4 separate regions of the Homo sapiens genome follow, and regions 2, 3 and 4 are each reported to be linked to region 1. The links are microRNA targets in miRTarBase. Many come from high-throughput screens and were not tested one by one. Region 1 holds a microRNA gene; each other region holds the end of a gene's coding sequence.

Region 1 (7,519 bases):
TCCTGCTTCTTAATTTTAATCTTACAAGTTAATAAATTAATGAGTAACTCATAACTGGGGGATTCTATATTGCCATCCATTCTTTTGCCCAAATCAGGAATTTGCAACCAACTTATGATGGCATGTCGTTTTAATGCAAGGAGTTGATTGTGTCCTAAGCTGTATATTTGGCATCTGTGCAGTTCTTTCTTGGTGCCATCTTGAAGCTATTCACTTTTCTTCTAAGAATGTGAAAACTATATGATGAGTTTCTTATCCAAATTATGCAAAAAATCACAGCCTTTTCTTTCTTTCTTCTTATATATGATTTTATATTAAACAGTTTTCTTTTAGTTCAAAACATTTTTATACTTTATATGTTTTTACCTATTTTTCCAAAGATACTACCTAAATATTTTAGTCAGTTTTAGCCCTTATTGTTTTACTTCCCAACTCATATTAGTAAGAAATTGATATTTATTGAATACTTGTGGCTTTTAAGAGACTTTTGTTTGGTATTTCAATTTTGATCAATGTTTTTTATTATATGACATGTTAATCTTATTTAAAAACTTGGAACTCCTACATTGCAGTTCAAAGACTAATGACATTATCCCCATTTAACCAATGTGCATCAAGTAATCCTTCATGCCAGGAATTATTCGACGTCCTCAGCTCACAGTTGTGAGCATTACAGAAAACAAGATTACATTTTAACACAGGAATACAAACAACAAAAAATAATAAAAACTTAAATAAATGAGAAAACATTGGATTAGAATTAAGTGCAAGGGAGATAATTAAATTAAGATGCTGTGATTGAGAATGACGAGTAGATACTTCATACTCAATGGTCAGGGAAAAACTTTTCTGAGGAGATAACAATGAAGCTGAGACCTAAATTTTTAAAAAATGTTTTGTGCTAATGCTGTAAGTTCTTCTCGTCTTTATATCACTTTTTTGGCATTGTTACTCATCTAGGATTTTATGATTAATGTTGTCACTGTTATTATTATTCACTTTTCAAATTCACATAAATTTTACTTTTTGATGTACCACCCTGTCAAATTTGATAAATGCTTACAGTCATATAAAACCATGACCACAATCAAACTGCAAAATAGTTCATCACCCCCCAAATAACCCCTGTTGCTGCACTTTATAGTCAACACCTCCTGCCCGCCCAGCCCATAGCAAACACTAATGTGCTTTCCGTTCCTATATTTTACTTTTCCAGAATGTCATTAGATAGAAACATACCATATAAAATTTTTTCTCTCTGCCTCTTGTTACTTAGCACATGCATTTGAGATTCATCCATGTTGTGTGTATATTATTAATCAGGTTTTTCTATTGCTGACTAGTATTTCATTGGATGTATATGTCACTATTTATCCATTAACCAATGAAGGATGTTTAGGTTTTCCCAGTTTTTGACAATAATAAATAAGACCATTATAAACCTTTCCATACAAGTTTTTGTATGAACCTAAGTCTTCATTTACCTTGGTTAAATACTGTGAGTAGGATTACTGAGTCATGGGCTTATGTTTAACTTTATAAGAAATTTCTAATTTATTTTCACAAATGGTATATCACGTTTATTCTTGCAAACAACCTATGGTATCTCATGGTTTCAATTAGTATTTCCCTAATGACTACTGATTTTGAGACTCTTATTATGCATATTTATCATCCATATATGTTTGGTGAAATACCTGTCAAATCCTTTCCTCATTTTCTATTTGGTTGTTTGTTTTCTTAAAATTAGTCTTATTAAGGGTGGGTGCACACCTATAATCCCAGCACTTTAGGAGACCGAGGTGGGCAAATCAATTGAGCCTAGGAATTCTAGACCAGCCTGAGGAACACAGCAAAACCCCATCTCTACAGAAAATACAAAAAATTAGCTGGGCATGGTGGCACACGCCTATAGTCCCAGACACTTGAGAGGCTGAGGTAGGAGGATCACCTGAGCCAGGAAGTTGAGGCTGCAGTGAGCCAAAATGGTGCCACTGTATTCCAGCCTGGGTTACAACGTGAGACTCTGTCTCAAAAATATATATATTCATATTAAGTATTTCAGATTCTTTTTACATTGTAAATACAAGTCTGTATTAGTTACCTGTTTTGCACATATTAATCCAGTCTGCAGTTTCTTTCTTTTCTTAACATTGTGTTTGCAGAACAAATACTCTTGTTTTTATAAAATAAAATTTATCAAAGTTTCTTGTGTTCTTTTGTTGTCATATTTAAAAAATATATTTAACAAGACCATCTATTGAGAAAAGAGGGTTCACATACTCTCCAATAAAGTACTTATATTATTAAGAAAAAGTTCAAGTGCCTATCTGAGAGGGAAATTTTCATCTTTGTAGATGATTGCTAGAAAAATGTTCTACCTATATTTTCATATCTCAAGTTAAGCTAAGACAGCCAACCACTTGTCAAAAATGAGGTTTACTGTAAAGAAGAAAGAATTGTAAAATTGGTATATACTTTGAAAAGTAAAGTACACCAACCTTTTCATTCAAATCTAATAAATGTATCTAAGTAAACTATTTAAAACTTTTCAACAGATGCAGAAAAAAAAAAAAAAGCCTTCCTAGAGCTTTCTTTATCTGAGTAAAAGTAGAAACTTATGGGAAATAAGGCTGCTATAAATTGCACTTCAGGGTAGATCTAATCCCAGAAGGGAAAATGTAAATAAAACCTACCTCAAACCCCTTCTCCAGGGGAGTATTATGGCCCTGAAGGAAACAGGAAAAAACATTCATAACTATATAGACAAACATTATCACAAACTTTATCTCCTGTTTTTTCTTCTGAAAGCCCATTTATCTTTCCAAAAAGTCATCTGTTTTCCCTAGGTGCCTTTCTCTCTCTCCCTTTCACCTATTAAAATTGTATTATCTATAAGCTCCAAATTCTAATTACTTCTTTTGAGTCACTCATCATTGAGTTCTTCCATGTATATGGGTGCCGCAAGCACAAATAAATTCTATTGTTTTCTGCTGTGTATAATATGGGCTAAATTTATTGGTTGGGTTTTGGAGGCTATCTAGAAGAATGTCAGCAAACTATTTCCATATGGTAGAGCAGGTGGAAAAACATGTATGTACACATGCATATCCAGAAAGAACAACAATAAAAAAGCCCTCTGCTGATCAAAAATATTCTAATAAACTCAATATACATACAATAAAAATAATACAAGTAAAAAGATAATAAAGCATAACAATTATTTACATAGCATGTACATTGTATTAAGTATTGTAAGTATTCTAGAGAGGATTTAAAGTATACGGGAGGATATTGATAAGTTACATGTAAGTAATATGCCATTTTAAATCAGGGACTTGAGCATTCATGGATTCTGTTTTAGTGGGAGTGATCCTGGAACCAATTATCTCCAGGGATAATGAGGGACAACTGGATAGCTTTTCCATCACCCACGCAGATGTAAATAACCACAAGATCATCAATAGCATTAAAATATGGTGGAATAATTAGAAAGTAATGAATATTGAGTATATATTGCATGTTTTTATTATAATATATGGAAGATATGGAAGTATAGATTTATTTTGTAGATTTTTTAAAAACTGATATGTGCATTTAAAACCTGTCTTGCAAAATTCCTAAAAATTTAATAGCTGGCTTTTAATAGACCGTAGAAGGCAGCTCCAGCACACCACTGGTCTTATGCCTTTGGAAGCTTCCCACAGCAGAAAATAAAGCCTGAGAGTGCAACAAAGCTGAGCTTATTCTAACTCCATATCTTGGTTAGCCATAAAGAGGAAAAAATAACTATAAAACAATGACAGATCTCCTTACTCTACTGGTAGTAAATTTCTGTATGCTGTACTGAACTCTTTATTGCCAGGCAAAATTCTATGTCAGTTCCAGCAGCAAACAAGACCAATGAAACCCCTGCTCTCATGGATTTACATTTCAGTAGCCCATTTTTGTTGCCCCATGACACATTCCTTTTCTTTTAATTTGTGGATTTAGAACCTGGAGCTTCTTCTTGGCTCCTTGGACAAAACCATGTTTATTCTTGGGATATACCCTATCAACTCTGATTTCTCTTTAAAGATGTACTCATTCTCCTTTACTGGGAATTCTCCATTTTTGTGGCCTCTCACTACCTCCTTTCTTTCTTTTTTTTTATCATTAATTTGTTCTTATAATTTTGTTTTTGTTACTTAAAAAAAAGACTGTGAGAAAACATTGACAAGTGTATTTTCTGTTCATCTTAAACCAGAAAATATTATCTGATAATTTGAAATCAGATTGTTAATCTAAATAGAATGAATTTAAAAAGTTCTATTTTTTTTTTTTTTTTATGGGAGTTTTGCTATTGTTGCCCAGGCTGGAGTGCAATGGTATGATCTCAACTCATTGCAACCTCCGCTTCCCAGGTTCAAGCAATTCTCCTGCCTCAGCCTCCCAAGTAGCTGGGATTACAGGCATGTGCCACCATGCCTGGGTAATTTTGTATTTATTTTTATTTTTATTTTTTAGTAGAGTCAGGGTTTCTCCATGTTGGTCAGGCTGATCTCGAACTCCCGACCTCAGGTGTTCCGCCCGCCTCAGCCTCCGAAAGTGCTTGGATTACAGGCGTGAGCCACTGCGCCCAGCCAGTTCAATCCATTTCTGAAAGTATCGTGGAAGCCTGGAAGATTTATTTAGTGGCCCTTCAGATTAACGTATTAATTTTTTAAAATAAACATAAGATAAAAGAAATATAACATCAGAGTGAAAGGAAAATTGGGACCTCATTGAGTACAATTATTCCATAGCCTCTCTATAATTGGCCAAAATACACATACATTTTTGTGACATACTTAGTTCTAAGATTTTATAAATTTCTATTAACGTCCTAAAAAATCCAATAGATGTAAAAGTTGAGCAAACTGTCTTTGAGATCCATCCAGCTAGAATTTTTTTCTGTCTTTAACCATTTTGTGGAATATATTCTTATATTTATATTTTATCATTTATATTTATATTTATATTTATATATAAATATATTTATATTTATATATATATATAAATATATTTATATATTTATATATCATTTTATATTTATATTTACAAATTTATAGTTTTCATGTGTTTTTAAACTGGGTGAATGTTTATTGTTTGGGAAATAAGAACTCTACATGTTAAAACTTAAGTTTAACTTAGAAGCAATTCAGTTAACGCTATTAAGTTTTAAGCATGTATTGATTTCGTGTTTTCATCTCAGAATGTTGTGATGCATTAAATCTGCAATTACAATAAAAAAGGCATGAGTTCAATTCCTTTAATCTGTAAAGTTGAAATGTTTTATTTAATCTATTTTAGGGTAGAAATTCAACTGGGATCCATCAAAGCATAAATTTTGTTTGATTAAAAAGCTTATGTATTGACAATTAAGCATTAAAAATATTCACTCTTTTGCATCTCATTCTAAATGAAAATAGTGACTTTTGTAATGCATTGATCAAGGAAAGCTGGATAATTTACATCTTTGAGTGATATTATTTTACACTATCTTTCTGCTTTTTAATATCTTACTGTCTACTATCACCTTTAAATCATTGTTGATGATTATAGCACAGATCAGTTCTACTTCCTTTAAGTTTCATCTGAAATGCTGAAGTTATCAGATCAAGATGGCAATGAGTAAACTGATACTGTTAGAGGTTTGTATTTGGTCCAATCTGCACATATAAATATATATATATATATATATCTGCACATATATATATATATATATATAAAAAACCAACCTATATAGGTTGTATATAGTACAAACTGTTTTAAAAGCTTTTCCTAGGACTCTTTTCAAAAAGTTGTTTAAACAAATAAAATCAAGAAGAAAATAAAATATGCTATACAACTATTTATGGAGAGTATATATTTTTAGTTTGACTTCATATTGTCAACATAGATATACTCTATGACCAGTTCATTTCTCTCCTTGCTACATTTTCTTTTTTATATAATTAGTTCTTGTCTTCTTGTGCTTTCTGAATATCGCTGCTGTATAGAGACACCTGCTGGGAAATAAATGAACAGAAGAAAATTCAAACCTGTGCTTAGAAACAAGAAAAGCTTCTCTCTTATACAGTTTAAGCAAGCTTTCCTCTAATAACGTATTTTGTATCAGAGCATACATGCCTTTGAAATATATGAAAATCTACCTATATCTGGAGCTTTGCTATTAATCTTAAAATCTCTACCTCGGCATGAGGTTTCCAGAATCTACATATAGGTACGCTTGCGGTATAAAATAGGTATGTAATACAAGACAGTTGTAAATCTATTTCAACTAAGTCATTTAAGTGTTCACATGTATCTTTAAAAATTTTTACACATAATTATTTTCCAGTGATTAGGGCTTCTCTTATTCATATTTTTACATCTTAATTTTTATTTAAAACATTTGCTAAAGCAAGGCAAACTTTTATTATTGATTGGTTTAATGTAAATATTTGCATTAACAAAAATTGTCTTTTGAAAGTTTGTTTACATGAGTATCTGTTTACATAAACCTTTGTGTTCAATTTCAATCTAAGTTGCAAATGGCAAGATTTCATTATTTTTTACGGTTGAATAATATCTCATTGTGTATATGTACCGTACTTTCTTTATCCATTCATCTGTTGGTAGATACTTAGGGTGATTCCGTATGTTGGCTATTGTGAACAGTGCTGCAATAAACATGGCAGTGCAGATATCTCTTCAATAGACTAATTTTCTTTATTATGGATATATACCCAGCAGTGGGATTGCTGGATTATATGATAGTATTATTTTGCGATTTGTAAGGAACCTCCATACTATTCTCCATAGTGGCTATATTAATTTACATTCCCACCAACAGTGTACAAGGATTCCCCTTTCTCCATATCCCGGCCAGCATCCATTATTACCTATCTCTTTGAAAAAAGCCACTTTAACTAGTGTAAGATGATAGATCATTATAGTTTTGAATTTCATTTCTCTTTTGAGTGAGTTTCCCAATTGTAAACCAGCAGATCAACAACATTGAAAATTAAATGTAAAAATACATTTAATTGATAGTTTAATAACAAACCATCAATTAGGTATTTCAATTGTGTTCCAAACTCTGGGTCAAGCTTAACTTCTTCAGAATTACGCTGATTTCTCATGTATTATAATAAGATGATAAGTCTTGAAGATGATATGAGCATATCTGAGTCCTTAAATAGTTTTAATAATTTCATTTATGTGCTTTGCTGAATGAATATCAAATAGCAGGGCAAGATTACAGGCAGGTCTTGAAGTGCAGTTACTACAGCAGTTCTCAAGTGATATTCACCATAATTCAGCTGAACATAGACCAGTCATGTGTGGAGAATGGATGAGAGCAGGATTTCCAAGCACCTGCTCTCTGCTCCCAACCAGACAGGAAAAATACAGTACATGGTGACAAACTGATATCAGGCCTCCAAACATGTGGCAAAGATGCTGACAATTGCTAAGAAGCCAACCAAACATATTATGATTAAAGATGGGGTGAACA
Region 2 (7,519 bases), not on the chromosome of region 1:
TTGCTTTGCTTCGCTTCAGACACCATGGATACCAAGAGGCATGATTTTTCCAAGGCTCATGCTCTATCCAGATGTTCAATGTCTTGTGGATTTGCAATTTGGAGTGCCTCTATCACAGCCCAGAGGCACTCGTGATTTGCATTACAGGACCTCACACTTTCAGGTTATGGAAAATGTATGGAGATGTCAATGACATATTAGAATTCTGTATAAAAGGAGGAACTTAAGGGTTCTTTTGTTTGTTTGTTTTTGGTAGGAGGAGGTTGCAATCTGCAGATGTGCCTGGGTGGTGGGTGGGGGCGGGGAGGGCGGTGTTTTACGTTTCTTTTCTCTCCCAGCAGTGTCTGACCTCTCTACGCTCAGATGTATCATATCCACTCACTCAAATGTGGAGCCACTCTCAGATGACAGAATCACCAAAAAACACCAGGAGAAGGTATTAAGATGCAGATTTCTGGGTTGGCTTTAGACAGAGAGAGAGAATAAAAATGTTATCTCTTGGGGTGGGGACAATTGTCATTTTAATAAGCTGGGTCCCAGAAATATGCATTTTAAATAGGCCAGGGCCAAGGACTCTGAATTTGCTGGATTTTTATTTATTTTTTTAGAGTGTTGCTCTGTTACCCAGGCTGGAGTGCAGTGGTGCAATCATAGCTCACTGCAGCCTCCACCTCCCCGACTCAAGTGATCCTCCCACCTCAGACTCCCCAGTAGCTGAGACTACAGATGCATGCTACCATGCCTGGCTAAGTTTTTTATTTTCTGTAGAGATGGGGTCTCGGTGTGTTGCCTGGGCTGGTCTTAAATTCCTGGTCCCAGGTGATCATCCCGCCTTGGCTTCCCAAAGTGCTGGGATTACAGGCATGAACCACTGTGCCTGGCCCAGCAACATAATTTAAGAATATGAATTAAAATTCAGTAGATTCATCTTCCTGTGGGAAAGGTACATTGTGCACCCCCCGCCCTCCAACCAATTAGGTCTATCCTTATTTATTTAGAGACAGTCTTGCTCTGTTGCCCAGGCTGGAGTGCAGTGGCACAATCTTGGCTTACTGCAACCTACGCCTCCCGGGTTCAAGCGATTTTCCTGACTCAGCCTCCTGAGTAGCTGGGATTACAGGTGCCCACCATGCCCAGCTAATTTTTACGTTTTTAGTAGAGACAGGGTTTCACCATGTTGGCCAGGCTGGTTTCAAACTTCTGACTTCAGTTGTTCTTTTCGCCTCGGCCTCCCAAAGTGCTGGGATTGCAGGCATGAGCCACTGTGCCCGGCCTATTCAAGTCTATTCTAGATGCCTTATGAGCAGACACTTGTGCTCAGCATCAGGAGCCTGACCTTCTAGCAGGAAGCCCTAGGCTTTATTCCCAGCTCTGGCCCATGTGAGCCATGCAGCCCCTGTGAGCTATTTAACTTCTGTGCTTGTCCATAGATGGGGGCAGCGCCACATATAACCTTCCAGACAGGATCCCAAGGGCGCCACATGCAACGGCTATGAAAGCATGCTACCTTCTGAAAAGCACTGCCATGTACTGCGTGGGTCTCCATTGTCGTTAGAAGTCATCTGCAGTGCCAGGCCTTCCCAGGCTCCTGAGAGAACACACATGACAGCGATCAGGAAACTGAAAAAGCTGTTCATGCTAGGCGGCTGGGTGCAGGAAGAAAGGGCAACTACATTCTGTTAATACATTCGGGTGCTGTCATTTCAGAAATGGGAAGTGGGACTTATATGTTACTTTATATTCTTTCTTTTTTTTTTTTGAGATGGAGTTTCACTCTTGTTGCCCAGGCTGGAGTACAGTGGTGCGATCTCAGCTCACTGCAACCTCCGCCTCCCAAGTTCCAGCAATTCTCCTGCCTCTGCCTTCTGAGTAGCTGGGATTAGCAGTGCACGCCACCACGCCCGGCTAATTTTTTTGTATTTTAGTAGAGATGGGCTTTCATCCTGTTGGCCAGGCTGGTCTCAAACTCCTGATCTCAAGTGATCCACCTGCCTCGAACTCCCAAAGTGCTGGGATTACAGGCGTGCCCAGCCCTTCATATTCTTTGAACCATGAGCTCATGAATGTACCATGAGCATGTATTACTTTTATGATTCCCTGGTTAAACACAAATGAGATTTTTACTGTCAGCCTCAGACCCTTGTGTTCAACTAATATGTGACCACATAGTGACTGGGCAGGCCAGCCCTCACTGCTGGGCAGAGCTGACTCCAGTGCTTGATGCAAGGGGATGCCAACACAAAAGAGGACAGGGATGGCATATGGGTCTCCTCAGGAGCATGGGGTCCTCGTTCCACCCCGTTGTTTCTAGAGGGGCTAGCCCATCCCTCTCTGGGCTTCAGTGTCCTGATCAGTAAAATGAGGGGATGAGGATGCAGACAAGAGCTGCAAGATCTTTTTCAGTGAATTTCCTGACACTTAGGGCTTCTGGGTGAAGCCACTGAGGGGCTAGGGACATCGGTTTGGGGTTGTTCTCTGGGATTCTTGCAACCTTCAGAAATGCCCCAGGAGCTGACTGGTGTGGCGCCGGCCAGTCTTCTAGCCTGGCTATAGAGGAAGCAATCAACGGGCCAGGGGCAATTAAGGGCCAGAGTAAATCTACTCTCCCCCAGAATCAGCCCTGTTGGGAACGGCTGTGTGCTATTCCAAGTTCATGCCAATTAACTAACACTCTCTCATTTAGAGGGCAATTCCTTCTAAAACACACTGTGACTTCCAAGGAGCTGGATAATGCAATTCTGCCTGCTCCAATTACCGTGATCCGAGATCACCCAGGCCCAAACTCCATGAGGGCGCCTCAGCCCAGCAGCCTGTCATTCCCTCTTCCCTCAGCCTCACTGGAGGTTGTCGTCTTCCTGGGGAGCTGGAAAGCTGCAGGCAAGGGGCTGTGCAGTCATGACACCACTATTCACCCTGGCCTGGGGCCAGCTCAGATAATACCTCTCATCACCCCCGGGGCCCCTCGCTTCCTTCTTCCTCTGGGATGGGTATGTGAGGCATCTGGGAAGTCACCACCTACCACCCCAAAGGGTGGTGAGGTAATCCCCAGACACGGTCTAACAAGTGCCTGGGGTGAAAGAGGCTCTGTGTGGAGGAGAGTGCCTCCCTGTGTTGCTCTGAACCCCCAGGAGCACTTCACTGATATCCTGGCACCCAGAAGAGATGAGAAGTTAACGCGGTTTTCTTGTCATCACAAAAGCATCTTTCATGCCATAATCGAGTCTGGATTGGAGGGAAGATTTCACTAGACAGTGGCCAGAGGCTAGACACTCTGTTGGTTATTGCCCACCCCTCCACCCACTCAGCCATTTGAGGATTCCTATTGTAAGCAAGAAAGTGAAGGAGACAGGCACACTGCCTAAGAGGGGGATGCTGACATGCTAAGCACAGGGAAGCAGGACGACGTTCAGTTTTGACCAGAGTTAGCCCTGCAAGAGCAGGCTCTGTCACCTGGGCTGAGGGGGTGTGTTCTGTGATGCTGATGACTAGGGACTCAAAGGAGAGGGGCAGCATCCTCCAGAAGGTGGCTCCAGGCTGGTCACCAGCAGAAGGAAAAAGGGGAAAGTTGTCTTAACTGCGCCCACCTGAGTTTCAGGCACTTGACAACTGTCTCATCAGGTAGCTGTGGAGCACCCTCCCCTCCACTTCTCCACCTCCTGTAGCCCCTGCCTCCTCAGAGACTTGGCCATGCTTCCCCACAGCATACTCTGGAGGATACGGATGTGGGGAAAGCGTGCTTCCTGCCATTTAACTTCTCAGAAGGCAGCAATGGTAATGACAAATCCCAGAACTTAATGTTTTTACCTCTAACCAAAGTCAAAATGGCAGGTGCCCACAGTTCCAGTCTGTGCAATGACAGCAAACCCCGGGGAGTGACTGGGGAGGGCACAGAATCTGGAATAGCCTTTTGCTCTTGCATTAACTTTGAAATTTTTATTACAAAAATGTCTTTCCAAAAAAAATTTTTTTTTTGAGATAGAGTCTTGCTGTTACCCAGGCTGGAGTACAGTGGCACTATCTCAGCTCACTGCAACCTCTGCCTCCCAGGTTCAAGCAATTCTCCTGCCTCAGCCTCCCAAGCAGCTGGGATTACAGAAGCGCGCCACCACACCCAGCTAATTTTTTATATTTGGTAGAGATGGGGTTTCACCATGTTGGCCAGGCTGGTCTCAAACTCCTGACCTCAAGTGATCTGCCTGCCTTGGCCTCCCAAAGTGTTGGGATTACAGGCGTGAGCCACCACGCCTGGCCAAAAACATTGTTTTTTTTAATAGTAGAAGAGAGTATACAAGTGATTTAAAAAAACACAACAAAATCATTCTGCCCAGGTAATCACTGTATTAGTTGTGTGTCCTTCAAGATCATATAGGACACCACCTAATAGGGGGATGCTGATAAGTGCTTTTCTCTGCCCTCAAATTGCTTTCCCCTCAGAAATGTTGCATGTGGTAGAGTTGTATCATATACAGTGCTTAACTTTTGCAAATTCATCTGTGCCTAACCAAAAAAAAAAGAAAAGAGAAAAAGAAAAAAGCAGGCAATAGTGCCAGTGTCATTCCACTCAACAGGCATCTGCCCAGAATAAGCACAGTGGGAAAAGTGGTGTAAGGTTCCAGTTCCCTCATGCGATTCCAGCGTTTAAAGAAACATTTTTCTGGCCGGGCGCAGTGGCTCACGCCTGTAATCCCAGCACTTTGGGAGGCCGAGGCGGGCGGATCATGAGGTCAGGAGATCAAGACCATCCTGGTTAACACCGTGAAACTCCGTCTCTACTAAAAATAGAAAAAAATTAGCTGGGCGTGGTGGCGGGCGCCTGTAATCCCAGCTACTCAGGAGGCTGAGGCAGGAGAATGGTGTGAACCCAGAAGGAGGAGCTTGCAGTGAGCTGCGATGTTGCCACTGCACTCCAGCCTGGGCGACAGAGTGAGACTCCGTTTCAAAAAAAGAAACATTTTTCTTTAAGTCCCTACATTCAAGGCCAGTAGTACTTCAGCGGGAACTCAAATAGAGAAATGGTGATCTGCTCCAATGCTTTAGGTGCAATTTAGACTATGTCATTCTGTCTTAAGCTCAACCTAGGACCCAACCCCTAGCAAGATGATTCCACTGGTCACATACTATTTTTTTTTTCCCATTTAGTCTTCAAAGTTGTTCTGAACCAGTTTATACAGTTGACCCTTGAACAACTCAGAGGTTAGAGGCACCGACCCCCTTATGCAAAAATCTATGTATAACTTTTGACTCTCCCAAAGCTTAACTACTATAGCCTTCTGTTGACTAGAACCCTTACTGATAATATAAACAGCCATTCAACACATATTTTGTATGAATTACATACTGTATTTTGTATTCTCACAATAGGGTAGGCTACAGAAAACGTTATTAAGAAAATCATAAAGAAGAGAAAATATATTTACTATTCATTAAGTGGATCATCATAAAGGTCTTCATCATTGTTGTCTTCACATTGATGAGGAGGGGAAGAGGAGGAGGTGGAGGGAGAGGAGGAGGGACTGGTTTGTTGTCTCAGGGGTGGCAGAGGTGGAAGAAAATCCTCATATAAATGGACCCGCACAGTTCAAACCTGTGTTGTTCAAGGGTCAGCTGCATAATATGTCTTGTTCTTTAGATACTTAATACAAGACATTTCACAGCATGAAATGTATAAGATGTTCAATGGAAATAGTTCTCTTTTCATATCACAAAGGAAACAAACATCACCATGAAAAAAGACAAACTAGGAACAAATTTACAAACCAGGAATATATCACTTTATTCATTTCCAGATTATGAGTATGACACAGCATATACATATATTTAGATAATATATAAAACATAGAATAAACCGCAGGAAGAAATATTGGTCTGGAATTCCTTATGGGCCATCTTTAATTCTGTAAGTTCATGGTAAAGGTATCTCCCCCCACACTGGGGCAGGCGGCGGAATAAGCTCCAGCGTTCATGCGCCACTCACAGGACTGCTTACCCCCACTGCACTTACAATGCAGTCACAGAGTTACGGCATGTTCACCGGTGTCCATGACAAGCAACACCAAGTATAAATAACAGAACTACAGCAGAGCAAACTAAGATAAATATGTTTTTGCATCGTCCTCCACATAGTTTCCTTTTAAAAAGAAGAGTCACATCCAGGGGTCTATCCCTCGAGTCACAATTCCAGTTATTGCTGAAGGGAAAAAACAGAGAAGTGGCATCAGTTTAAGTTACTAGAAAATAGATGGTCAGTGTCACAGGCCCCCTGCCTCTGGTGACACTTGAGTGGACAGTGACTGTGGAGAATGGACACACATCTGCAGCACACAGGCAGGGAAGCACCCACCCTTGTGTTAGCAGGGACCTATCAGCTGATAATACTTTTGGGCTGATTAAGAGTTAAGATGGGGCTGGGCACGGTGGCTCACGCCTGTAATCCCAGCAGTTTGGGAGGCCGAGGCAGGCGGATCACTTGAGGTCAGGAGTTTGAGACCAGCCTGGCCAGCATGGTGAAACCCCGTCTCTATAAAAATTAAAAATTAGTTGGGCATGGTGGCAGGCGCCTGTAATCCCAGCTACTCAGGAGCCTGAGGCACAAGAATCCCTTGAACCTGGAAGGCAGAGGTTGCAGTGAGCTGAGATCGTGCCACTGCACTCTAGCCTGGGCAACAGGGCAAGACTCCATCTCAAAAAAAAAAAAAAGTTAAGATATTTTCTGAAGTTCTGTGAGCCAGTAGTAGGAAGTGCCTCATCCCCTCTCACCGTGGAGAGGGGAAACAGCAGTAACAGAGTATTTCACAGGAGCATTCCTGATTCAGTGCTGGAAGGAGACCTAAGATCTTGCGATATAAAGGCACCCCAAAGTGTCAACACAGAGAGGCTCTGCAGCTGAATTCTTAGACCAGAGCACCTTCCAGGAACACAGCTCCCCCCACTCACTGGTGGACCTTCCTCTGGGGAAGACTGGCTTACCTTTGCCTTGTTCTGAACTGGGAGATACAGTTTGAACTCTGCCGGCAGCTCATCTTCTGAGTAGAGTCTGTCTGAGAAGTAAACCCGTCGGATGCGACAATTTGCATGGATCTGTCAAGGCAATGCTTCTTTTGAGAGGCGAAATGTGACTGTTCTCCCCCTTTTCCTGAATCTTCTAGAGGCCCTCTTCCAGGACTGGAAACGCGTCATCTCCGGCATCTCCTTGGCTTGTCTTAGGGATGGATTCTGGCAAGAGGGAGGTCTTACTTGCTGTATTCACCTCTATACCTGACCCGACTTCTGAATATTTCCTGGACCTTTGTGAGGCCAAAGCTCCCTGGACAGTGTGGCAACTGAAGCCAGAAACCCACACTGTTCTGCTATGTGGGCCACAAGCCAATATTAGACGCAGTGTGCCCTATCCCCAACCCAGGGCTCTATCTGGGAAAGGAGCAGTACCTGCACTCTGAGGGTCTCGATGTAATTGGTGCCGTATGCTCGCCGTGTGAAGTCTAGCAAGTTGAACTGAATCTGGTTCCAGCCGTCATCCAGC
Region 3 (7,519 bases), not on the chromosome of region 1:
GGGGGTGGGGGCGGGGGCGGGGCTGCGCCCCCCCTCAATTCCATCCCCTCTGTCACTCCCCCACCCCCGGCCACCACCAACAGCACAAACCCCAGCCCTCAAGGCAGCCACTCGGCTATCGGCTTGTCAGGCCTGAACCCCAGCACGGGGTAAGTGGGTGCACGTGGGAAGCTGTGGGGAGAAGCAGGGTCGCTGCTGCTTCTAGGGTGGGGAGCGGCACCCCAGTTATGTTGGCAGGTCCCTGCCCCTGCTAATGCCTCTGCTTTGCCTCTTGCAGAAGCACAATGGTGGGGTTGAGCTCCGGGCTGAGTCCAGCCCTCATGAGCAACAACCCTTTGGCCACTATCCAAGGTGCGTGCTGCCTCATGTCACACCCATCGTCACCAGCCCTATCCTCTGGGGCCTCGAGCCCTGCCATTGCTGCTCCAGCCATGCCATCCTGCCCCTGCTCACTGCATTGCTTGCCTCTTCATACCCATCTCACCTTTGGGGAAGGTGTGAGGGGTGCTGATGGGGGTCAGTGGGACCGATGGGGAGATGGGGGGCACTCTGGGCAGGATGCTGGAAGGCAAAGGTCTCCCCTGGCCCGGCATGCCCTTAGCCCAGCCTCTCTCTCTCCCCGCCAGCCCTGGCCTCTGGTGGAACCCTGCCCCTTACCAGCCTTGATGGCAGCGGGAATCTGGTGCTGGGGGCAGCCGGTGCAGCCCCGGGGAGCCCTGGCCTGGTGACCTCGCCGCTCTTCTTGAATCATGCTGGGCTGCCCCTGCTCAGCACCCCGCCTGGTGTGGGCCTGGTCTCAGCAGCGGCTGCGGCTGTGGCAGCCTCCATCTCCAGCAAGTCTCCTGGCCTCTCCTCCTCATCCTCTTCATCCTCATCCTCCTCCTCCTCCACTTGCAGCGAGACGGCAGCACAGACCCCTGGAGGTCCAGGGGGGCCCGAGGCAGGGTCCAAACCTGAGTGAGGGCCAGCCATGCCTCCCCTCCCATTCCTCTGGTCCCTGCCTTGGTCCCTTGCCTGGGAAGAGGGCGAGGAGGCCAGTGGTGGGGACGCAGAGGGTCCTCAGAGCAGGAGTGACAAGGGAGGAAAGACCAAAAAAACAACCAACCAAAAAAAAAAAAAAAAAGGAAAGAAACTAACCAACAAAAGAGAAAACCAAAAATAATCACAACAGAAACCAGCTGCCCCAAAGGAACCAGAGGTGAAAAACAAACAAAAAAAAACCAAAAACAAACCAAAAAAAAAAAAAACCCACAAAATCAAACAAACCAAAAAACCAGTCGCGAGCCAGACCTCAGCGTGCTCACCCTCACTGCTACGACGCCAAATAAAAACCCCAGCCAGGGGCGGAGAAGCCTCCAGCAGGTCAGACCTCATGCCACCGAGCCCTGGCTGTGGGACCAACCCCCAACCCTGCCTCCCCCGTGGGGGCTACAGAAGGAAAAAGAGAAGATGCCAGCTTCCTAATCCCAGCCCCCAGCCCTGGGCCAGCGAAGACAGGGCACAGCCTGGGCAGATGGGCTGGGGCTTAGCACCACCCACCAAATGTTCTTTTCCAGAAGGTGAAAGAGAAAGGGCCTGAACAACCTTACACCAAATATTCAGTAGCTTCATCCAAAGGATGTACAGAATTTTTAGCATTGTGCTCAACAGAATGTGTCCCTACCATGTGTCCCCTTCTCCCCTGGCCCCCAGCTCTCCCCACCTGGGCAGGGGGTCTTGCTTTAACCTCCTCCCTCCCCCCAGCAGGGGAGAGTTCAAGGGAAGGCCTGCGGACAACTTTTCATCCCCTGTTCCTCCCTCTTTTCCCCTTTGAAGGGTGGGCTAGGCCATTTTGCCAAGTTCTAGCTCTCACAAGTCCCTCCTCAACCCTGTCACCCTCCTCTGCTCTGGAACTGACTCCCTCCCCAGCCTATGGGAAGGTGGAAATTTCAGGCAAGAGGGGATGAAGACATTCAGTTGAGGGCATTCAGTTGTCTTTTTCCATCCTGTCTGTTTCCCTGAAAAAAAAAAAAATTCATATTCCAGTGCCTATCCGTGGGATCCTTCACGTTCTTTGACATTAACCAGAAACCAAAAAGAGAACTCACCTCGCTTTTCCCACCCTGTGCCCCTCTGGTACTGGCGAATGCCTCTCCCTCCCCCCACATGCACGCACGCACACACCCCAGTGGTGGGGTTCCTCGAGATGGCATCCCCATCAGGGTCCATGTGGTGGGGACAGTGCCACAGCCTGTGGTCCCCATCTGAGAGGGCGCGGTGGTGGCCACCACTCCCACAAGACCTCCACAACTCTTGGCTGGACCCTGTGTTTGACCAGCCCCGGACACGTCTCCACTGACGACGGACAGAGGAGAGACACCACTGGGAGCCACCCTGCCCTCCTGCTATTGTGGAGGCCAACAAAGTTTTGAACCGAAAACCAAAAAAACAGAAACAAACAAACAATAAATTTAAACTAGAAAAAAAATTTATATATATATATAAACATATATATATATATATATATAAAAGGGAAAGAAGATGAGGACTCTTCAAGAATAAGATGGAACCGCGAGGCGGAGCCAAGCCCCTGCACCGGTGGTCCAGGCCCTTGTTCCCCAAGGCGGATGGAAGGACGGATGCTTCTTTCTCTTCACAAATACCTCATGGACGTTGTCTTTGGGAAAGCCGGAGGGGGCGGCTGGGGCAGGGCCTGTCCCTCGGCCAGGGCAGATGGAAGCGGGTGGGCGGGGCTGAGAGAGGGTATCAGGGACAGGGGTGAAGAGCCCCAAACTCCCCTCCCAAATCAACTGAAAAAGCTTTAAAAAAAGACAGGAAAAAAAGGAGTAAGAAAGCAAAAAGAACAGATGAAGGAAAACTTAACAACTTTTGGGTGGTTTGATTCCTCCTTTGATTTCTTTTTCGGTTCTCTTTTGTCTGACCTCTCTCCTCCCCTCCTTCCTCTCTCCTCCCCTCCTTCCTCTCTCCTCTCCTCCTTCCTGTCTCCTCTCTCTCCCTTTGCTCTCCTCTCTTCTCTCTCAATCTTGTTCTTTCTGTGTCTCTCCTCAAACCAAAGTGTTGCAGTGAAGGACACGAGCCATTGAAATCAGGGTGGGGCCTGACAGCCGTAGTGTGGCCCCTGCCCCTTGTTGGGCAGGAGCAGAGAGAGAGGAGAGCCCTGAGACCGCAGGGCTTTGGCCTGGGCAGCTTCCACTTTCTGCCGGACACTCTGAGGAGAGGCAGATGGAGCTCCAGGCCTCAGCGTTCTCTTTTTTCCTTGTCTCCCTTCTCCCACCCGGGAAATGAAACTGTTGGGCTGGGCGACGGAGGCAGCAGAGACTCGGCCATTGCAGGGGCCTCTGGGTGCCTTGTCCGGGCAGTGGTGAAGTAGCCGCCCCTCCCACCCCGGCACGATGGGGCCTGGCACCTCGTCTACCCAACCTCACCGGAATGTAAGCATCTCCGCTGAACGACTCCCTGCCCTTACCCTACCTCTGAGTTTGTCCATGTTTATTTCCTGAAGAGAGAAGGGACTGGCAAGAGGGCTTGGGCCCCAGCCCAAGGGTGGAGAGGGGGCCAAGGGCTCCTGACCAAATAGGAAGGACATTTGAGCAGAGCAAAATGAAAGGAATTACAACCAAAAACCCCCTCCGAGAAGACAGGCAGCATGGAAGGCATGGTGGAGATGACTCAAACAAAAACTATGATTCTAGACCAAAAAGGAAAAAAAAAAAAAAAAAAGGAAAGAAAATCCAGGACTCACCACCACCCACTTCATCCTGCTTCCTCCCCATCAAGTCCCACCACCTGGGACCTCTCCCCACCCCAGTATGTGGGAGTGGGGTAAAGAGGAGAGGAGGAGCAGGGGGCAGGGATGGGGCAGATGCCCTGATGTTGGTGGAGGGACCCCTGTGCAGCCGGGGGTGCTGGGGACCCTCCCCATCCAACCCTCACACCTAGGAAAAGAAAAACAAGAAAAAAAAATTCCTGGGAGGGGGAAAAATAACCAAATCCCAAGCTTTAACTACAGCTGTGAAACCAAATATTGGGAAGGGGGTAGGAGGGAGGGAGGGGCAGGTGAGCCCCAGGTCTCCCCCTGGGCCCCCCTCCCCTGAGGACTCGAGATAAGGCACCAAATACCTCATAGAACTTTAATGTTAAAAAAAGGAAACCAAATATCGTTGGCTGGGGGCCAGCCAGGGCAAGGGGCTGGGGGGCTGGAGGGAGCCAGGGTTGGGAAGGTGATGGGGGAATTCATGCCCCCCACCCCCATCTGCCCCTTACACTCTGGTCCCCCGTCTCGACTCCGGGAAACAAAACTATCTCATCGTTTTTATTTTGTGGTCTGTACAGAGCCTGTGTCCGTGTGTCTGTGTATGAGCGAGAGAGTTGGAGGGCTGGGGAGCTTTATGTGGGGGATGGGGAGGGCAACCCCAGGCTAGGCTATGGGCTAGGTTAGATGTCCGAGGTTGGGGGCCAAGGGCCTGGGCTAGAAAGAGAGGAGAGATGAGTGGGTTGGAGCAGTGGGGAGCCCTCTGAATTTCTCTTCTCCCCAACCCTGACCTCCTACTTAAGGGAGGGACAGAGACTGGGTCTACCCTAATGGTGGGCCTTTTCATTGTGCCAAAAAAAAAAAAAAAAAAATTGATGCCAGTAACTAAACCACCTCTCTCTGTTCTCTTCTGGGGGGTGGGGTGGGTGTGTGTGTGGGGGTGGGTAGGGATGGGGAACCCAAGCCCCAGTAGGAGTTGGGGCTGAGATCAGGAGGAGGGGAAGGATATGAGTTTTCCATCCATCTCCCTGGAGAAGGCCATGACGGGCTCTCCAAGCCCTGGGGAGATCTGGCGAGGGACTAGCCAAGTCAGGGTGACCTCTTGACCTGACTAGTTTTTCTAACCCACATGAACACCAGGGTGCCTCTCTCTTCCTCTAGCCCAGGGTAGGGGGACCTGAGTGAGAGAGAGAGTGAGACAGACAGCAAGATTGAGACACGCGGGCCCCCACTGGTCTCTGAGTGGGAAAGGCAAGTGCGAGAGATAAAGGCCTCCAAGAGAAAAAAGAAACAAACCAAAGATTTAACCATTTAAAAAAAAAAAAAAACCCACAGACAACTCCGCTACCTTTTTATATGTTGGAAAAAAAGTGAAAAAAAATTAAAAATAAAAATAAAAAAAAATACACAAAAACTCCAAGCCGCAAGTCCTTCATGCGGTTTAAACTTTGACCTCAGCAGTCTCCAAAGCAAGACGACGATGACAAAGGCGGAAACAAAGAAAAAATAATGTATATTTTTAAGTATTTGTCCTTGAATTGTTAGCTCCTTGTTAAACAAACAAAAGGAGAGAAAAATCCAGAGAGAAGTGTTGCTGGGATGGAGACAACTATTTACTATGTCTGTGACCCCTCCCTTCTGCCTCCCTCCCCTTCCTCTCTTTCCTGTCCTCTATCCTTGCTGCCCCTCCCCCAATATGTCCCCCAAACCCAGGGGCTCAGTATTTATTTATTTATATAATTGCAGGGTGACTGGGGGCCTCTCTCGGCAACTCGTAGAGAGCCTTTGGATAATGGCAGGGTGGGGAATGGGCGAGGAGTCTTTGGGAAGAGCAGGGGCCTGAACTTTCAACTCCTTTCTGGCCTCTTGTCCCACTGCTTCCACCATCACCTTCCAAATCCAGGGCTGCACTAGGGCAAGGTGACCACCCTACTTGGTAAAGACCTGATTGGCGCAGCCCATTCTGGTGTGGGTGTCTTTCACCACCCAGAATGACCAGGTTGGAATGGGGGTGGGTGAAGTTGGAGGGGGTGGCAAGTACAAGGCAAGGGTGCCCAGGAACCGGCATCCAGAAATCAGCCCTGGAGTAGACCTGCCTTTCCTCCATCCTTACCAAGTTAGCCTCCCTTTCAGTTCCGTCTGACCCCTGTGTTGGTAGCCCCTTCCTTCCCTTCCTGTACCCCCTCCGTCTCTTCTCGTGGTAGCGGGTTAGTGTTTCAGTGTTCTTAACTCCAATCTGCTTGTTCATTGTACAATGTGCTTCTTTTAAGGCCCCATTTTTGTAACTTGAGTGTGTCATTCATCTGAACAACAAACATCAAAAAATAAAAAATTAAAAACTGTACAGAGAGAAATGATGCCTACTCTCCCTTGGTCTCCTCTCTGTCCTGGGAAGAGTGGTGAAGAAATCAGGGTGTGGGGTTGGAGATCTGTATGCTGGGGAGGGGAGGGTTTTACTTCTGTTCCAATAGTGAATGTTCACAGTCTGGGCAACATAGAACTCTTCTCTAAAAAAGCCCCAAAAACTCAACTCGGCATGGTGGCATGTGCCTGTTGTCTAGTCCTAGCTACTTGGGAGACTGAGGTGGAAGGATTGCTTGAGCCCGGGATGTCAAGGCCGCAGTGAACCGTAATCGTGCCACTGCACTCCAGTCTGGGTAACAGAGAGAGACCTTGTCTAAAAAACAAAAAAAACAAAAACAAAAAAAATTAAATTTTAAAAAATAGTGAATGTTTGGAAGTAAAACCTGCACAAATGTTCTTGCCAAAGAACCAAGTCTTTGAATTTAGGATGAATTCATACTTCTGAATTCAAATCTCAGTTCTGCCATTTTATAAATATATGACCTTCAATATGTGAGCTTCTGTGTCCTCATCTGTAAATAAGGGACAATACCTACCTCACAAGGTTGTAGGATGATGGTCTAAGTAAAGTGCTTAGGACTGAGCTCCAGCACACTGTCTTCAATATATGAGAACTATGAGAAAGCCAGGAAACCAGCAAATACCTCTCCATTTCCATCCCTGGATGCTTCCCCAGAGGACTAAAGAGACTCTTTAAAACCAGAGTTTCAATTAACACATTAAAAAGTTTCAACCTCACAAATAGTCAAATAAATTAACAGAAGAGTTATATGTCATTTTTTCACATCACCAAAAAAATGCAAAAAAAAAAAAAAAAAACACCCAAAAACAAACAAAAATGCCGGGAGCGGTGGCTCATGCCTGTAATCCCAACACTTTGGGAGGCCGAGGCGGGCGGATCACCTGAGGTCAGGAGTTCAAGATCAACCTGGCCAACATGACGAAACCCCGTCTCTACTAAAAATACAAAAATTAGCCGGACGTGGTGGCGCACGCCTGTAACCCAGCTACTCGGGAGGCTGAGGCTGGAGAATAGCTTGAATCCGGGAGGTGGAAGCTGTAGTGAGCTGAGGTCGTGTCACTGCACTCCAGACCAGGCGACAGAGCGAGACTCCATCTCAAAAAAAAAAAAAAAAAAGTCCGGGTGCAGTGGCTCAGGCCTGTAATCCCAGCACTTTGGGAGGCCGAGGCGGGTGGATTACGAGGTCAGGAGATCAAGACCATCCTGGCTAACACGGTGAAACCCCGTCTCTACCAAAAATACAAAAAATTAGCTGGGCATGGTGGCAGGCGCCTGTGGTCCCAGCTACTCAGGAGGCTGAGGCAGGAGAATGGCATGAACCCAGAGTCAGAGCTTGCAGTGAGCTGAGAATGTGCCACTGCACTCCAGCCTGGGCGACAGAG
Region 4 (7,519 bases), not on the chromosome of region 1:
CTCAAATGTTAGCTGTTATTATTTCTAATCAAAGCAGTGGTGGCTGCTATTTATAAACACTACTATGCATGCTTTATGTACATTATTGCATTTGTTCCTCCTAATTATTCAATTAATATTATCCCTGTTGAATACACAAAAACACTGAGGTTCAGAAAAAGTTGAGAAACAGGCCCAAGGTCTGAGTGTGTCAGAAGCCAAAGCGCCAATGCTACTGACCACTAAATTGTTGCTTCTTAAACTGGGGTCCATGCAAAATCCTTGTGGAGTATATATGTGTTGGGTGTAGGAAAGTGCCCATGAACTTACTATGAGAATTATGCATTATTCATGTTGATGAAACATTTTAAAATAATATTCATGCTCTGAATTATTTGGATAATTGTATTAAAACCAAATATTGGCAGAACCATCTCAGTGCTTAGGTTTGTATTTGTATTGACTTCCCTGTTAAGGCCCAGTTCTACATTAGTGGTGGAAGGCTTATGGAGAACAGAGGCTGTTTTAATAGGGGAATGATGGATTCAGGCTAGATGAGGACCAAATAACATCACTATGTGCTGAACAAATTAAAGTAATAGTCTGAATAGGAGAAAACAGGGTGAATTGGGTCATCACATAGTACATGGCAGTACATGCCTGTTGAACTGAAAAGAGCCTGTACTGTAGCACTCAGTACCATAATCACATTACAAGTGACAATTTCATTTTGTCAAAACATCACTATTTAATACTATTTTAAATTTTATTAGTTTTATAGTTTTGCTTGTGTTAACCCATAAACTTGTTTTGGTTTTATACTTGTGCAAGACATATAAACATAAAGCATTTATACCTAGTTTTATGTTTATATATATTTAGATAACATTATAATAAATATAAATTAAGCAAAAACTGAGGAGCTAAGAGATTTTTTTCCTTATTAAAAAGTGAAGTACATTATTCAGTTTGAGAAAACTGGTCTACACGGTCGGTCCTGCTTGTGAATGTCGTCTTCAGGAGGTAACTTCTATTATCACCAACCTCACAGGATTTGTAAGAGCATTAGAAGAGACGATGAACGTTAGAGTGCCTGGACCACAGGAAGAATTACAATGACAGTTCTGTCTCCTTTCCTTGAAAGAGAAAATCTGGAAGCTAAATGCAGTCTATACTCTTTTACTCTAACTATGGTCTGGGGACCAGGAGAATTGATAACACCTAAGAGCTTGTTAGAAACTGATAATCCCAGAGGCCACCCCAGAACTATTGAATCTGAATCTCCATTTAATAATATCCTCAGCTGATTTGATACATGCACATGAAAGTTTGGGAAACACTAGTCCAGGTCTCCACAGAGAATGTTGACTAAAATTCACTGAGTTTTTAACTACTCTTAAGGTTAACTTTGGTAATTAGAGAAAGACCTCATGTAAATGGTCAAAAAATAATGTCCCATCCTGGGGTTCAATATAAACACTATTATTTCACTATTGATTCTTCATAGGCTATATTTGTATAGAGTGAGACCCTCTTTAAAAGGGATCTAACTTCTAATTCAGAATGAGCAAAAAATATTTTAAAATACAAAGTTTTCATAAAAGCTTTCTGAATTTTCAGTAAGCAAATTGTAAGATCTGTCAATTTAAGCATTTTTAGGTTTCCTTCGCCCAATACCAATTAAAATCATTTATATATGTTAAGCTCTTAAATATTTAGCTCACAAGATCTGGTCTAACAAAGTCCTGTCTCAGTCTGTGATGACTGTGTGCTTACGTTAACGAAACACATTACAAAAAAAAAAGGTATGACTGTGTATATAAAATGTATTAGCTTTACTGTCCAACAAAAGTATCAGATCACATTCTGCAGTTGTGATTTTGTTAGTGTAATTCACCTACAGAATACCTATGCTTTTCTTCCTGAACTCAGTGGTCCTATACATTTAAGGCATACTGTACTTGAAAAGATTCAAAGATGCTGTTCTTAAAAGTGTAAAAAATAACTAATATACAAGAGAGTCACTAATATCTAAAATGATCTTGATACCATCTGTTTAAGGACTAGTTCAGTAAGACTCAAAGATTGAACTAGGTTATTTATTGCTCTATGTTCTCTACATATGGACCACAGAAGTCCGACTCAAAGAATGTAAAACAAGGCAGATTATGCATATATGTGTGTGTGCATGCATGTATATGTATATATGGTTAGGCCTACCAGGCAATCCTTATCATCTCTGGGTTTATGATATGACCTAGATTATAGGTATGTTATGAACTGAATGCTTATGTTCTCCTCCTCGTCTGCAAATTCATATGTTGAAGCCCTAACATACAAAGTGATGGCATTTGGAGGTGGGGCCTCTGGGTGGTAATCATGTCATGAGGGTGGAGCCCTCATGAATGAGATTAGTGCCCTTATAAGAAGAGACAGGAAAGTAACGATGTCTCTCTCTCTCTGCCAAGTGAGAATACAGCAAGAAGCCAGAAGAGGGCCCTCATCAGGAATTGCGCTGGATGGCACTTTGATCTTGGGGTTTCTCAGCCTCCAACTGTGAGAAATAAATGTGTTTTGTTACGCCACCCAGTTTACGGTATTCACCCAAAATGACTAAGGTAAGGTAAAGCCCTCCTTTCATTCTTCATGGTCTTTTTGCAAAACAAGAGTTAATTATATGCCAAGAAGCATTAGTGCCAGCACAGTTAAAACACTCTAGCGCACGTTAATTATGATGATTACAACTTAAGAAAACTATAATCAGAAACCTGGCCAGGCACAGTGGCTTATGCCTGTAATCTGGCACTTTGAGAAGCCAAGGTGGGCAGATCACCTGAGGTCAGGAATTCGAGAGCAGCCTGGCCAACATGGTGAAACCCCGTCTCTACTAAAAATACAAAAATTAGCCGGGCATGGTGGTGCATGTCTATAATCTCACTTACTGGGGAGGCTGAGACAGGAGAATCTCTTGAACCCAGGAGACAGAGATTACAGTGAGCCGAGATCGTGCCATTGCACTCCAGCCTGGGTGACCAAAAAAAAAAAAAAAGTACAGTAAGGCCCTTTAAAAAAAAAAAAGAAAAAGAAAAAGAAACCTAACTAACTCCAGTTTTCAAGGTGTTTTTATATTATCCTGCAGTTCTTTTGGTCCTTAATACAATCAATCCACTGCCACTAGAACCATGTAACTCTCCTCTATATAGTACTTCAAATTCTAATCATTTCTGTGCATATATTAAGCAATTTAAACTCTATATACATACATACTGTCAATGTATCGGGGAAATACAAAGAGTGATCTTTAGTTTATGCTGAATACTTAATTTTATCACTTCTCCATTAACTGTTATAAAGACAAGACTAAACCTACAGTTTGAATTCATTAAACAATATCCAAGCAAACAGAAAAGAAGAGGAAATAGGCAAGCCATGTTTTTCTACTAGAGTGACTATACTTATCCCTCTTTAAAAAGAAGTGATATTTTCAATTTCAGAAATTTGATTAAAAAACTACATCTATTTTTCCTACCAAAAATACTCAAAAAACCCTCTGCTAATTACTCTCAAAATACTGCAGATGTATTCCTTTGAAAAAGGAAATACAGGATGGGCACGGTGGCTCATACTGGTAAGCCCAACACTTTGGGAGGCCGAGGCAGGAAGATCACTTGAGGTCAGGAGTTTGAGACCAGTCTGGCCAACATGGTGAAACCCTGTCTCTACTGAAAAAAAAAAAAAAAAAAAAAAAAATTAGCCAGGCATGGTGGCAGGCACCTGTAGTCCCAGCTACTAGGGAGGCTGAGGCAGGAGAACCACTTAAACCTGGGAGGCCGAGGCTGCAGTGAGCCGAGATCACACCATTGCACTCCAGCTTGGGTGACAGAGTAAGACTGTCTCCAAAAAAAAAAGAAAAAGAAAAAGGAAATATAAAGCATCCGCCAATGAAACATAATATACATTAAAGGAGAAAACGTCTTTAAAATATGTACCATTTGCCCTCACGAGTCTAATAAAGGCTGAACCTTTTTTAAGAGGTAATTTTCACTATCAAGAAACTTGGATATAGATGAATTAAGAACCCAAATACACGTGGAAGCAAGAAGTGTACTTGTTTTAAAAATCATATTATGCCTTGCATGATTAATAAATTAATATTTTATAACTTGTGTCTTCAACAATTCAATTAGCATTTGGCATGACCAAAGTTTAATTAAATTAAAGACTTGGTGGTGCTTTGAATTAACATCAGATGCTGGTGGTCATCTCCATCCAGTATCCCCTTTATCCTCTAATATGTCCTTGAAAATGGCATGTATTATTCAGGCTAAACCTTTTCACAAAGGCAGATTGGTATACCAAATGTTGCTTAATCATTTCAATATCAAGGTCATTATATTTCTCCTCTAGGATTTGGTACTTTGAAGCAACTTCATTCTATAACACTTTAGACATCTATAAAAGCATGAACTTGGTCCCACATCAAATTTAGTTTCAGTGAGAAGAGTGGTCCTTATCTTTCTTTAGTCATCATTGAATTATAAAACACAGTTGATATGTATATAGTTCTGTATCACCTTTATACCCTAGGACATCAATTGTACTAAAATCTCAGCATATGTAGAATCCTGCTTGTGTTACTAAACATTAATATACTGGTATGAATATAGCAAAGGAACATCCTTTCAAAATCATTGCCTGTAAGAAATTGTATATATAAATTTGCTTCCTTTCAAATTGGCAAAGTAGCTTACGGCCTCTATTATCTCTACAGAAAATGGTTTGGGCCAGGTTCTTGAGGTAGCCAAGTTCCCCTTTAACAAAGAAAAGTTGGCAGACTTTCATAGCTGCTCCTTGTGAAGAAGATACCTCAAATATGATCTCACGATTGACTGTAGAAGATGAAGTTAAAGTTGCAGACTTTTAAGGTACAGTGCCCAAGGGGTTAAAAAAAAAGTACTGTTTGAGAGAAAGCTTAACATCCGACATCTGACTGGCTGCCTGGATGTGATGACCTAGGGGACATAAGAGAAAATCTTAACATAGATGTATATATAAGGATCAAGTAATTTTGAGGTCTGACACAAAGAAAATGTGTTCAATACATGCAAAAGATAAGAACCTTTATCTAAAAAATGTAAAGTCTCTTCTTGTTTATATGGGAAAATACAGGATGAATTTAATGCACTATAGGGGCATTTCCCTATCATAAATGAAGAGAATATGTTTCTTTGATCTCCAATGAAGAATTAGTTTGGGCAGAAAAGAATGGGACCCTTGGAAGCACTGATCTGGAGCACATGATAGAACAGAAAGGTTCTGCTTTTTTTTTTCTCTGAACTGCCAATGTACGTGATGGGGTGAGGAAGATGGGGCTGTGGGGAGGTGGCTGTAGGAATCAAAAAAAGTACAAAGCTACCCAGATGGGAATAATAATGGTTTGACCTTAATTCAAGAAGAAATGTTTAAAATGGCCAACAGATGCCTCTTATTGAAGTATAGCATCAGGGGATGAGCAGGCCAGAAGAGATTCTGGACAAAAGAGGAAGGAGGTCATCAGGGTTGGAATTTTACACTAACAGGTATTGCCACACAAAAAGAAAAATCACTCAAATGGTATCAAGGACAAGAGGAGTGCTGTGTAGCATTCCCTCATATATATTTATTCCCATTTAAAAACTAACTGAAGATACCCCACCACAACAAAGCCCTTTCTAAATGCTATCTTCATGATACCTCTGTGAGGTAGGCAGCATAATTCTAATTTTTACTCATAACCAAGCTAAGGCACAAATAGAGCCTGAGTGGTAAAAGTGGTCTTTTGCCAATTATCAGCTCCCTGGATTTGTTCACTGTGACACACTTCCTCCACACTGATGCAGGCAACTCAAGAGATGCTGCTATGAAATGTCCTTAGAGGTAGTAGACCTGATAGCTAAACAAAATCATTCATGACTCTGGAAGACAACACACTCTCTAAATGCTCACTGCTGGAGTCTTGGAAGATGCTCTTAAGAGTACTAATATGTGCGGTCCTTTTGAATAAGACCAAATCATCCATGATTATAGGAAAAAGGCTGAAGATACAGTCTTCTTGTTTCACCCCACACTGTTGAGATCGGAACTGTGGCAATCTTAACAAGTCATATAATCCAAGGAACCTTAGTCCTTAAACTTTAGTCTTAACTTGTACATTAACATTCTAAGTCCTATGTTTTGCTAATGATTTTGATGTTTTTTGTCAGATACATTTCCACATTCTTGGACTCAGGTAATTCTCTTTTAACACAGCCAAATTATCTTTATAAAATATACATGGTATTAACACCATGGATCTGAAGCAAACAATGCATCTGGTTAGCATACATTGGTTCTGTATATTTCGAGAATCACTTAAGTACACAAAGGAAGCGTGCAATGTTAGAGAGATGATGTGAACAGTCTTGGTGGTTTATCTAATGGAGAATTCGGTGTCCTTCAGGAAACTAAAGATACTCAAAAGTTGCTCCCCAATTTCTATTAACAATCTAAAAATGAACATTTCCATTTCATATAAATATACAAATTTAAAATGTGTGCAGTTCAGAATGGCCTACCATTTTTAGATTGCTTATGTGCCAGAAAATATACAGTCAATAAAAAAATACCAGAGAGGTGGGGACAAAAGGCTCTCTGGATCTGTACAGCAACAATGAATATCACTTCAACAGGTAGCTATTCGTGGAGGAAGTGGCATCCTGGGAACCAAGAAGCACTGAAAGATGGCAGGTCACAAATCTGGTGATGGGGGATATGATGTATAGTAAGGCCCGTTTTCCTGTGGAAAGAAAAAAGGAGAAGAACATTTAAGTAACAGAACCAATTTAACTGGAAATGTGAAAAAAAGGGATTTACAGTCATTGAGGTAGTGATATAAAATGTCTAGCACATGTCTGGCACTAAGCAGGCCCTCAGCCATTAGGTAGTTCAACTAGTATCACTCAGAGTATAAGACAGACAAAGGCAATAGGATCATAATATTTTTTAAGAATAATACCACTTATTGAATATTTTATGTGCCAGACAATTTATAGGCGCTTTTAAAGTCATCCCTTTAAATCTTCACATAATGCCATGAAGTAGGTAACATCCTCACTTTACAGAAGAGGAAACTGAGGATCACACAGATTGCATAATTTGCCTAAAGTTACCTAGTTGGTAACCAGCACAGCCTGAATTTAAATTCAAATCTATTTAAATCTAACATCCAGATTCTTTTTTGTTAGATTGTGTTGTCTTACTGTGTGCCAAATCTTAATTTAGAGTTAGGAAAACAAAAAAGTTATCACAGAGGAATTTAATAGCTATAACTATTTTGGCAGAAGTGAGTCTTCATGACATGCCTGAGTGGCAAGGCTTGTAACAATTACAGTTCTCAGGAAATTTAGTTCAAGATCAAGATGGAGAATTAAATGCCAAACCTTTAATGTCAATGTAAGGGTAACAAATTAGTGCAAGGGGGAATTTTTTGGCTCTGATTTTGGCTAATCTCAGTAAAAATCAA

The links. The annotated mature microRNA hsa-miR-4307 reads AAUGUUUUUUCCUGUUUCC and lies in region 1 at 2,735-2,753, opposite strand. An mRNA with a match to its seed (bases 2 to 7 or 8) in the 3' UTR can be bound and repressed. Matches are read on the target gene's strand: a 7mer-m8 pairs with bases 2 to 8, a 7mer-A1 pairs with bases 2 to 7 and ends in A, and an 8mer does both.
Region 2: the mRNA of CFAP20 is a reported target of hsa-miR-4307. Seed matches in the 3' UTR shown: 8mer at 6,097-6,104.
Region 3: miRTarBase lists POU2F2 as a target of hsa-miR-4307. Seed matches in the 3' UTR shown: 7mer-A1 at 2,483-2,489.
Region 4: miRTarBase lists GDAP2 as a target of hsa-miR-4307. Seed matches in the 3' UTR shown: 7mer-m8 at 6,208-6,214, 8mer at 6,187-6,194, 7mer-A1 at 5,199-5,205, 7mer-m8 at 3,409-3,415 and 7mer-A1 at 843-849.

Annotation. Positions count from the first base shown.
Region 1 is chr14:26,903,931-26,911,449 of GRCh38, reverse strand. MIR4307 (microRNA 4307) reads right to left here and starts at 2,808; the gene lies at 2,725-2,808. The region is part of intron 3 of MIR4307HG (MIR4307 host gene); the gene reads right to left.
Region 2 is chr16:58,107,844-58,115,362 of GRCh38, forward strand. It overlaps CFAP20 (cilia and flagella associated protein 20), which reads right to left. Exons shown (of 6, transcript NM_013242.3): 4 at 7,426-7,519; 5 at 6,967-7,077; 6 at 5,749-6,187. The coding sequence ends at 6,182. Among named protein-coding and RNA genes, the nearest start is that of CFAP20, 18 kb to the right of the region's middle. RefSeq lists an enhancer at 1,595-1,644.
Region 3 is chr19:42,084,699-42,092,217 of GRCh38, reverse strand. POU2F2 (POU class 2 homeobox 2) reads left to right here. Exons shown (of 15, transcript NM_001394376.1): 13 at 1-149; 14 at 278-351; 15 at 627-6,108. The coding sequence ends at 961. Among named protein-coding and RNA genes, the nearest start is that of ZNF574, 12 kb to the right of the region's middle.
Region 4 is chr1:117,863,824-117,871,342 of GRCh38, forward strand. GDAP2 (ganglioside induced differentiation associated protein 2) reads right to left here. Exons shown (of 14, transcript NM_017686.4): 14 at 1-6,793. The coding sequence ends at 6,746. Among named protein-coding and RNA genes, the nearest start is that of GDAP2, 62 kb to the right of the region's middle.